Linked DNA regions of Homo sapiens: region 2 is linked to region 1. Evidence: fine-mapped expression QTL. Tissue or cell type: esophagus mucosa. Region 1 holds a variant in brackets; the other region holds the start of a gene. All regions are shown on one strand. Distances are between the middles of the regions.

The links. PIP is the estimated chance that this variant, and not a neighbour inherited with it, causes the effect. A credible set is the group of variants that fine-mapping cannot tell apart.
Region 2: it holds the start of SLC16A3, and the variant in region 1 is the best candidate, but not a certain one, in a credible set for the expression of SLC16A3 in esophagus mucosa (GTEx, PIP 0.56).

What each region holds. Positions count from the first base shown.
Region 1 is chr17:82,288,384-82,293,527 of GRCh38, forward strand. It overlaps LINC01970 (long intergenic non-protein coding RNA 1970), which reads right to left and starts at 4,431. Exons shown (of 2, transcript NR_135639.1): 1 at 4,140-4,431; 2 at 1,663-3,180. RefSeq lists silencers at 4,027-4,076, 4,117-4,366 and an enhancer at 5,123-5,144. The variant G/A (reference allele first, on the strand shown) is at 1,961.
Region 2 is chr17:82,225,985-82,231,128 of GRCh38, forward strand. It overlaps SLC16A3 (solute carrier family 16 member 3), which reads left to right and starts at 3,058. Exons shown (of 5, transcript NM_004207.4): 1 at 3,058-3,122. RefSeq lists silencers at 2,114-2,343, 2,434-2,513, 2,564-2,703, 2,864-3,183, 3,304-3,463 and 2 more.

The DNA.
Region 1 (5,144 bases):
GAAACACCTGTTGTTTAAGCTGCCCAGGCTGTGGCATTTAGCTGTGGCAGCCCTGGTAATATAGTTAGAAGGTGAAGAAGTGATCGAAAAACAAAACCAGCACCGTGTTGGCTCATAACTTGCAGCATAAATCTCCACAAGTCCGTACCGATATAAGGAAATGACTGAGTAAATAAATAAGTGGGGAGGAGAGATGAATCACAAAGGAATTCCAAGTAGTTTGTGTAGACACTCTGCCCCTAAGGAGGGGAGCCTAACCCCCACACCTTCCTTGGGTGCTGCAAATACTGACTTCCCCACCAAGGGCACCATGTGGAAAGGGGGACTTCGTGGTGGAGAAACCTGACAGGCTCCGCATTGGCCAGGTAACCCAGGCCAGCCCCACCTGTGACCCGGCAGGTGGAGACCATACACCCTTGGTAGGCTGCGATGAGGACGGGACTTCAACCCTGCGGTCTTCCTCCCAAAACCCATATCCCCTGTCTAACCAGGAGAAAGATATCAGACCAATCCCCACAGAGGGACACCCTCCGACACACCTGGCCAGCGCTCCTCAAAACTGCCAAGGTCATCAAACATGAGAGAAGCTGAGAGGAGCCTGAGACCCGAGGACTGAGTGTCCAGGATGGGCTCCTGGGACAGGAAAAGGACAGCAGGTGAAACTGAGGCAATAGGAATCAAGTGCACACCTTAGTCAATTACAATGTGTCAGTATTGGCTCATTAATTACATAACAAACACCAAACTAATGTCAGATGTTAACAACAGTGCCCTCCTATCTATCTTCACATCTTATCTGGAAACCCAGATCTATTCTAAAATAAAACATTTATCTAAAAATAAAAAGGAAAAAGTTGCTGTAGGTTCCTGATTGCTCCCATAGCAGGTTAGGCTCTCCCCCGTCGTTCCTAGCTTGCTAATAGTGGTAACAACAATGGCCATTTAAATCTACCATCTCAAGATGGAAAAAACACATGTACACAAAACGCAGTGGAAGGGCTGGCTACGAGTCAGAGGAATGACAGCAAGGATGGCTGAATAACAAAGAAACAGATGAAATCAGAGGAGCCTTGCCTGTTCTGACCATATTCTACACCTGGGACCCTCTTCGGGAGGCCCAGCCAAAGAAAGAAAGAAGGGCCAGGTGCGGTGGCTCATGCCCGTAATTCCAGCACTCTGGGAGGCCAAGGCAGATGGATCACCTGAGGTCAGGAGTTCGAGACCAGCCTGGCCAACGTGGTGAAACCCCATCTCTACTAAAAATACAAAAATTAACTGGCTGTAATCCCAGCTGCTCAGGAAGCTGACGCAGGAGAATCGCTTGAACCCGGGAGACAAAGGTTGTGGTGAGCAGAGATCGCGCCACTACACTCCAGCCTTGGGGACACAGCAAGACTCCATCTCAAAAAAAATAAATAAAAATAAAAAAGAAGGAAACCGGCTGTGGATTGTGTTAAGTTAAAAATCACAAGATCTATACACTCAGAAAGGAGACTTTACTTCTTATAAAGTCTTATAGCCTGTAAGGTGGCCATTCTGACAGGCTAGGAAGTGTGGCCTCCAGCCTAAGGCCAGAGACAGGTACTTGGAGGGAGGGTGCGGTGAGACAGGAATGTAAGCCGAATGGGTTGGTCAGGTATACATACTCAACAAGTTACAGGAGGCGTTGCGAATATACATGCATGTTTATTCGGACACGTGTGCTGGATAAACATGCATGTTACATATGACCCATGTTCACCTTGGGGTGAAGGCAGCATGTAAGCGTATTACAATTAGGTGGTATACCTCAAAAAGTACTTTCAGGACATGAAGGCACATGAGGGTGCAATCTCTGTAAACCAGCCAGAACCCGTCTATGGTCAGGGTCTCTTATCAGGGAAAAGTTACTGAAACGAGTCTCTTGTCCAAGGAAAGCTCTAGTTACGGCTGGTGGAGCAGGGGTGTGGGGCCAGGGTCG[G/A]CAGGGGGAGGAGCTGCGGTTGTTTCAATGCTGCTTATCTTGAGGCTAGTGCTTGTTTAGCTGCTACAGAAAAAGAGAAACCTGCGGCCTTTAGAACAGAGTTGATTCTTCACGTGCAGGGATGCACGACTTACTTTCACCAGGCCTGGCCTGAGGTCCTGTTTATAATTTGGTATTTTATTGCCACAGAGCCTGTTCTTAGTCTTATGATCTCTATTTTAACATGAACACCGGTCAATTCTGTCTAAACCACACAAGGGAGGGGGTAGAATGAGGTGCCTCTGACCTACCATCCCGTCACGGCTGGAAACTCAGTTTTTTGGCTTTTTTTTTTGAGATGGAGTCTCACTCTGTTGCCCAGGCTGGAGTGCAGTGGTACGATCTTGGCTCACTGAAACAGATTCAAGCAATTTTCCTGCCTCAGCCTCCAGAGTCGCTGAAATTACAAGCATCCACCACCACACCTGGCTAATTTTTTTGTATTTTTAGTAGAGACGGGGTTTTGCCATGTTGGCCAGGCTGGTCTCGAACTCCTGACCTCAGGTGATCCACCCGCCTTGGCCTCCCAAAATGCTGGGATTACAGGTGTGAGCCACCACGTCTGGCTGGAAACTCAGTTTTTAAGGTGTCTCTGGGACCCCTTGGCCAAGAGGGGTCTTTTCAGTAGTTGGGGGGCTTAGGATTTTTTTTTCTTTTTTTTTTTTGAGATGGAGTCTCATTGTCACCCAGGCTGGAGTGCAGTGGCACGATCTCAGGTCACTGCAACCTCTGCCTCCCAGGTTCAAGCGATTTTCCTGCCTCAGCCTCCCGAGTAGCTGGAATTACAGGTGTGTGCCACCACGCCTGGCTAATTTTTATGTATTTTTAGTAGAGACGGGGTTTTGCCATGTTGGCCAGGCTGGTCTCGAACCCCTGACCTCAGGGTGATCCACCTGCCTCTGCCTCCCAAAGTGCGGGGATTACAGGCATGAGCCACCGTGCCTGGCCAAGATTTTATTTTTAGTTTACAATTGGAAGGCTAGTGGGCCGGTGCAGAATCTCGCTGACTTTTGGGTGAGCATGTTGAGGGCCCCCTGCGTCAGCTGCTCTTCTGTTGAACGGTGCAGGGTGGGGAGGCCTGGGCTGCACTGGCCACACAGTCCCCTCAAGAAGATCTTCTACGTGAAACAAAGGAGCACTGAGCGAGGGGAGCTCTGCTCAGAAAGGACCATCTTGCATCACTGAAATTGTGGGAAATGATAACAAAAAATTGAAATGTCGTGAAGAAACACACCAATAAGACCATTTTTAAATATACAGAGGAAGCTAGAAAATACAGAAAGAGGAACCATTCGGACAAGATACTCAGGAAATATCCAGGATTGTTATACCTAAAACAGCCCTCACTGCCCCCCTCCTGGCAGCGCACCTGAGCCCGGAGCCTGCCAGGGACAGCTCTGAGGAGCCAGGCAGGGCCAGGGATGGGCTCTGAGGGGCCAGGCAGGGCTAGGGATGGACTCTCGTGCCTGCCTGCTTGAGGCTTCCTTGGTCAGAGCGAGCGATGCCACCTTTAGGATGGCCAGAATTAGCAAATAAAAATATGGGATGCCGATAAATCTGTACTTCAGATAAACAATTTTTAGTACATGCCCAACGCGGTAGAGGTAAATCTATAGGGGCTGAAGCAGATTTGCTGGGCCGTGGGCAGGGTGGGGAGTGAACGCTCATGGGCACGGGGTTTCTTTCTGGGGCAACAGAAACGGTGTCACATGAGATAGTGAGCATGGCCGCCCATCTCCGAATATACGGCAAAGCCATAAGCTTTCAATAAGTGAATTTCACAGTAAGTGCATTATATTTCAACAAATCTGTTTTAAAATCTTAACTGAGCCGGGCGTGCTGTCTCAGGCCTCTAGTCCCAGCTACTCTGGAGGCCGAGGCGGGAGGATCGCTTGAGGCCAGGAGTTCAAGACCAGCCTGGGCAACATAGCGAGACCCCATCTCTACAAAAAACACGTTAAACAAAAACGTTAATTGGGCGTTCCGTGTTGTATCCAGCAATCCTAACCGCCCTCCGTCCCCGCGAGCCCCAGTCCTTCCCCTGCGGCTGGGCTGGGTCCCCCGTCCCGGGCGGTGAGGGCGCCCTGCAGGCGTCCACAGAGCTGGGCTTCCGTGGCGGCAACCCTAACCCCAGCGCCACCTGGTACGGCCCGGCCCGCGGGTCCCTCCGGGTCAGGACGCAGACGCGCCCGCGGCGGTAACCGGGGGCCCGGGGGCCTCGGGCCCACCCCGGCCAGACCCCGGGGAGGAGCGCAGGACACTGCCCGCGCCGGGACTCGGCTGTTTCCGATCCTCCCGGGCGTCCTTTAGGAGACTCATTCGCAGCCGACGTTGCGGAGGCGCAGGAAAAGGGCGAGCAGGTGCCTCAGGGACACCACTTCCAACCGCACGCCGATCGCCGGCTCCACCATAAATAGAAACGGGTGGTCTCTAATTGGCCTAGCTCTAATTGGCCTAGCTGTTGTCACGTGCTCTCCGATGGCCCAATCACTAAGGCTGGACGATGCTGCACTGTGAATGGCCAGGCCCGAGTCATGTGCCCGGAGAGGGCGGGGCTGGGCCCTTCCGCTCGCCGCGTCTGGCGATCGCGGCTACGGAGACCCAGGAGGGCCCGGCCAGGAGACCCGCTCTCTAGAGCGGCGAGGGCAGGGGTTGCTAGGGCGCCGGGGTCGAACCCGCGCTTCCTGCAAGTCTTAGGGCCGCATCCCTGCCGAGGCGGGCGTTGGGAAGGGTGGGAGATGGGAAGGTGCGGTGGTGCGGGGAGGGGAGGGCGCCGGGAGGGGTCGGAGAGGGGTCGCGGGTTTTGGGGCTGCGAGGAGGGAAGGAGGGAAGAGGAGGGAAGAGGAGGGCAAGGGGAGGGGAGGGCGGGGAGGAGAGAGGGCGCGGGCAGGGGAGTGGAGGGCGCGGGGAGGGGAGGGCGCGGGGAGGGGAGGGCGGGGAGGAGAGAGGGTGCGGAGAGGAGGGCGGGAAGGAGAGGGGACGGGGGGAGGGAGGGGACGGGGGGAGGGAGGGGAGGGTGGGGGAAGGAGGGGAGGGGAGGGTGGGGGAAGGAGGGAAGGGGAGGGGAGGGGAGGAGAGGGCGGGGAGGGGAGGGGAGGGCGCGGGCTGCGGGGCTGCGGGGAGGGAGGGGCGGGTTCAGGGCTGT
Region 2 (5,144 bases), 62 kb before region 1:
CCCAGCCTCCCCTTCCTGCCCGCCCCCCTCCCACAAAGGTTGCTCTTGGAAAAGGTGGGACTGCGCACCCCAGGGAGCTTAAGCCTGCCAGGGAGCAGGGTGGGAAGGACCTGGGGGCCAGGCCCCTAGGAGGACATTCCAGGGCCTGGAGGGCCCTGTAGCTGGAACTGGGAACAAAAGGAAGTTGGGGCAGCCAGGGGCAGGTGGAGGCACCTGGGTCTGGGGGAGAAGTCAAGACTGGGGGCTGTGGGGTCAGAGGGGGGCGTCCTGTGAAGCTGCTCACTGGCCAGGGATGGTGCCACCTGTCCACACCCCCACCTCCTTTCCTGCAGAAAAGGGCGGCCTGGGCCTGGGGTCTGACCCAGGGCCACTGTGGGGGAGCAAGCGTTGGAGCCAGGTGTGGGGTGGGTGCTCCCAACACCACCCAGAGTGGGGTGCAGAGATGCGGACACACGTGGCCTTTCCCACCCCTTCCCGCAGCTCCAGACCCCCAGCGGGCCAGGGGATCGCACCATGGCCAGAAGTGCCTCTCCCCTGCACCATCGCTGTCTCTGACACATCCAGGGTTGTTGAGGGAGGGGCATGACCCCCAGAAGGCATCTTACCCGAAACCAAAGTGGTATTCCGTGCCCAGGTGCCCCTGGAGCCCTGTGTCAGATGGAGCCTGGCCACCTGGGCCCTGGTGCCAGGCCTGGAATGCCCCCCGCCACCAACTGCTGGGCCTTTCTAAAAGCTGAGCACTTGGAGGTCAGGGGTACCTCATGCTACCGGAGTGCCAGAATCCTCGGAGAGGGGCCCAGGGTCTCGGAGGCTCTGGCCCCACCCCACAGCGTCCTGTTCTGTCCAGGCTCCGGGTGAGCTGTCCCAAGTGGCCTGCTTGATAGCTGCGCTGCCTGTTTCCTCTGGGTAACAACCTGGCAGGCCCCCAGCCCCAGCCCCCAGCAGCCATCACATCACTGTGACCACTCTGTGGTCTTCCAGTCCCCCCAGTCAAAGCCCACAGACTTGACCTCTCTGCTGGGAGCCAGTGCTGACTGGCCTGCCTGCTCCCCTCCCCTCTGAGGGCAGGGAGGCTCCACCCCAGCTCTGGGTGGACAGTCCTGGGGCCCACACCCAGGGGAAGCCATGCCTAAGAGGGGGCCAGGCCTGGGGGTCAGAACCAAACCACAGGTGCTCCCTGGGACCCCTGGAGGGATGACTGGGCGTCTTCCCAGCTGGGAGAAAACCTGGCCCTGGCAGGGGCGCCCCTTTGTCCTTCAGGAGGCAGGAGGGGGCAGTGAGGTCCCAGGCTCTCTGGCTCTGTCTCCCTCCCCCTGTTGCTGCTCTACGGTGGGGGTTCAGGGTTCAGGGATCAGGGCCAAGCTGTAGGCAGATGTGGAAGGTGTCTCGGTGGCTTCAGTGGGGGCCCCAAGCCCAGCTGGCAGGCCTGGTGACTCAACAATCTGGGATGGGGAGCACGGTACCCTCGCCTCCCCGGCAGGCAATACCCCATAGGGGACCCATTCCCGCAGCTGTCCACGGTGCCTCGCACCCCTCTGCTGCTCTCCCTCCTCAGAAACTGATGAATCGCCTGGTGCAGGAAGATGGGAGCACCACCTGCCCTGGGCGGGAGCACCACCTGCCCTGGGCGGGAGCACCACCTGCCCTGGGCGGGAGCACCACCTGCCCTGGGCGGGAGCACCACCTGCCCTGGGCGGGAGCAGCACGGGCCAACTAAGTAGAGTCTTCATCTGTGAAGTTGGAGGCCCCCTCACCACTTGCCACAGGCCTGTGTTCTGCTCACAGGCACGTGCCCTCATCTTGATGTTTGGGGATGGGGGTGGTTGGGCCCCAGGTAGGGGTGAGGGCCAGACCCAGCCTCTGTGAATGCCAGCGGGAGGGTGGGCTTGTAACATTACATAGAAAGAACAGGCGGCCTTACTGGACCTGATGTCCCGCAAGGCTGGGCTGCAGATGGAGAGCCAAGGCCCACACGGCCTCACTGTCAGGGGTGGCCTCCCCTTGCCCTCTGGAGGGGTCCTCCATTGATACCCCCTGCCTCCTTTGTGTGTGAAGGCACGGGCTTACCAGTGCCTCGGTCCCCGAAGCCCCCGGGTCCGGGAGGGGCCAGTTAAAGCATTCCTGTGGCCCTGGCAGGGTGGCCCTGACAACTAGACTCCTTGGTCCAGGCCAACAAAGGCCTTACTCCCTGGAGCCACCTCAAACCTCAGCACCCAAAGCGGCCCGTTATTTCCATGTTGCAAATGAGAGAAAACAGGCTGGGAGAAGCACCTCACGAGGTCCAGCGGGTGGGCAGCCCTCGCCTCCCCGAAGGTGGGAGCCGCCCCGGCCTCCGCGTCGGGTTCTGGGCCGCGAGAGGGGCGGGGCAGGGGCGCAGGGCTGGAGTCGGTGGCTTTGTAGGGCCCCGCAGGGCGCGGAGCCACCTGGGGAAACGGAAGTTCAGGGAGGGCGAGGCCGTGCCCCACATCCAGGCAGCGCAGGCCGCGGGCCGCTCCCCTAGCCAGGAAGAGCCGCCGTCCGCACCGGGACCGGAGAGGAAGCGGAGGTCTGAAGGGGGACAGGTCGGACGTGGCCTCAGAGAGGGAGGATGTGGGCCCCGGAGCTGAGCCAGGCGGCCGGAACCCCACGGGACCCGCGCGCACCTCCCCACCAAAGGGGCCCCGGCGTTGGGGGGCGAGGGGTCGCTGCCCTGGAGGACGTTGGGACCTGCCGCGCTGCGCTCCGAGGCGGGGAAACGGAGGGACGGCGGGGCGGAGGGGCGAAGCGAGCCTGGACTCCGGGGGAGGCGAGGCCGGGAAGACCCAGTCCCGAGGAGCAGAGGGGGCGGGCCAGCTCCGGGCCGGGGGCGCCGACGGGGCCGGTTCCGGTTGGGGGGGTCCCTGGGCCCGGCGGGGTTGCGGGACGCGCCGTCGGGGAGCTGCGGCCCGGGAGCCCGTCCGGAGGCGGCGCGGGGTCCGGGCGGGGCGCGCAGGGGCGGCGCCAGGCGGTGACGTGCGCGGGGGACGTGCCGCGCCAGCGACCCGAGCACTTAAAGTCGCCCCCGGCGCGGAGCGGACCGGCAGAGGCGGGCAGAGGCGGCGAGAGGCGGCGAGAGGCGGGCTGAGGCGGCCCAGCGGCGGCAGGTAGGCGCGGCCGCGATGCTCGCGCGCGGGCCGGGGCCCAGGAGCTCCCCCGTGCCGGGCAAGGGGGCGACCTCGGGGTCCGCGCTCTCACCCCCACCCCGCCCACTTTGTCCATCAGGTCCGGGGGCGCCCGGGGCATGGACTAGCCTTCTCGACCCCGAGCGGGCCCCACCGAGGGCTCCCGAGAGCCAGCCGCGCCCCTCCGCGCCCTCGCATACCTGGCTGCCCAGTCTCGTCTCCCCCGGTCCGGCCCGGCGCCCACCCGTCGGGCTGCCCTCAGGGGCTGGGCTCGGGCCAGGAGATGGCTGCGCCGGCGGCCAAGCCCGGTCCGGGTATAAATAGCTCGGTCCGCGGTGGCGGGGGGCGCGGGCTATATTTGGTGGGGCTGCTGCAGCCCTCCCTGTATGGGTGGCCTCCCCGAGGGAGTGGGGAGCACTTGCGCTCGGGCCGTGGCGCTTTCCCCTGTTCGCAACACCCTGAACACTCCCCGACCCACACCCGCCCTTGGGCAATGACTAACAGCCCGAGACCGTGCAGGGAAGTGGGGGACCCTCTCCAGAGCCAGGCTGGGCTCCCTGGGTTCGCCCTACCTCCACCCCTGGCCCCCAGCTCGTGGGAAAACCAGGCGCAGCCTTTGGTAGCCTCCCACTTCCTAACCCACGCCTCAGTTTCCCTATACGAAAAGTGGGTTGGTCAGGAGCCTCCCTGGGTGTTGGGCCAGTCAAGAGACAGGAGCCGCAGAGTGGAAGGGAAGCCCTTAGCTCTGGCCGGGGCCTCCAGGGGTGGCTGGAGTCGGTGAGGGACGATGGGGGGAGCCGAGGGGCGGCTGTCCTCCTCTCTGTCCCAGAGGCATGGGCTGAAAGGGTCCCTCTCCTGGTGATGGCCAGAGTCAGGCCTGCTGGGCGGGAAATGGCAGTTGGCCCACCCCAAGGCCCAGGGGCTTGTCCATGCTGAGCACAAGGGTGGGAGGTCTTGTGTCTGTTGGGGCCGGGGAGTCCAAGGTCCCAGCTTCACTGCACAGGCCTGGAAGTCAGGTGGGTGCTGGCCTGACCCTGCTGAAGGAGGGTCTATTCCGCCAGCGTGGTGTGGAGGCGGCTGGGCTCGACTCCCTCATGGAGGGAAGGAACTGAGGAGGTGCTAGGAGGCCGTGGGGGGGTGTCTGCCCCCAGAGAGGCTTTGAGTGCATGGGGGCTCTGCCGTGGCACGTGCAGCGTCTGTCCCCCAGGGCCCCATGGTGTGGACAGAGTCTGGGGTGGGCACCTGGAGGCCTGGTCTCAAGGCAGGCTTGGTAACGACCCCATGTGACCTTGGGCAGGGCCCGCCATCCAGGCCACCCAGAAAGCCATGTGGCCTGCACGATCAGGCCAGACCCCACTGACTGGAGCGGGGCACTTTACTTTGGAGGGGCAGCTACCAGAGGGCTCTATGGATCCCAGCCCAGCCGTCAGGCCGGACGGGTCCCCCCTACTGGCCTGCAGTGACCCTTATGCCAGGCTCGGCTGGCTCAGCGGTGGGTCCTGGGGTGACCTGGCCACGTGGGACAGAAGGGCCTGTGCCGCTCCCTCCAGTGAGGTGCCAAATGTGGGCCACACTCTGGGCCCCAGCGGGGGCCTTCCGGGCAGTGGCGCAGAGCCATTGGAGGTGCCCGGGCCCTGGGGCAGGGGCGGGGCGGGAGCAGACAGAGCTCAGGGCGTCCTCCTAGCGTCACCTGCCCGAGTCAGGCCCATCTGTGAAATGGGCCACGCCGGGCAGCCGCACGCAACGGAACCGAACCGCCGGGCTCCTGCTCCGAGACCCGCAGTTCACGAGTCGACGCCCCCGAGTCCCGAGCCGCGCCCACTGGTCCCACCTCTGCAGCAAGTGGAGTCGGCCCCGCCCTGTGGCTTCGAGGCCCCGACGCCTGGCGCGGCTCCCGGGCTCCGCTGACCCCGGTGGACCCGCGCGCCGGCAATTACGGTAGCGTCCAGTAGGGCGCCTACTGCGGGCAATACGGGGGCTCCTCCCATGGCGCGGTCACGTCCC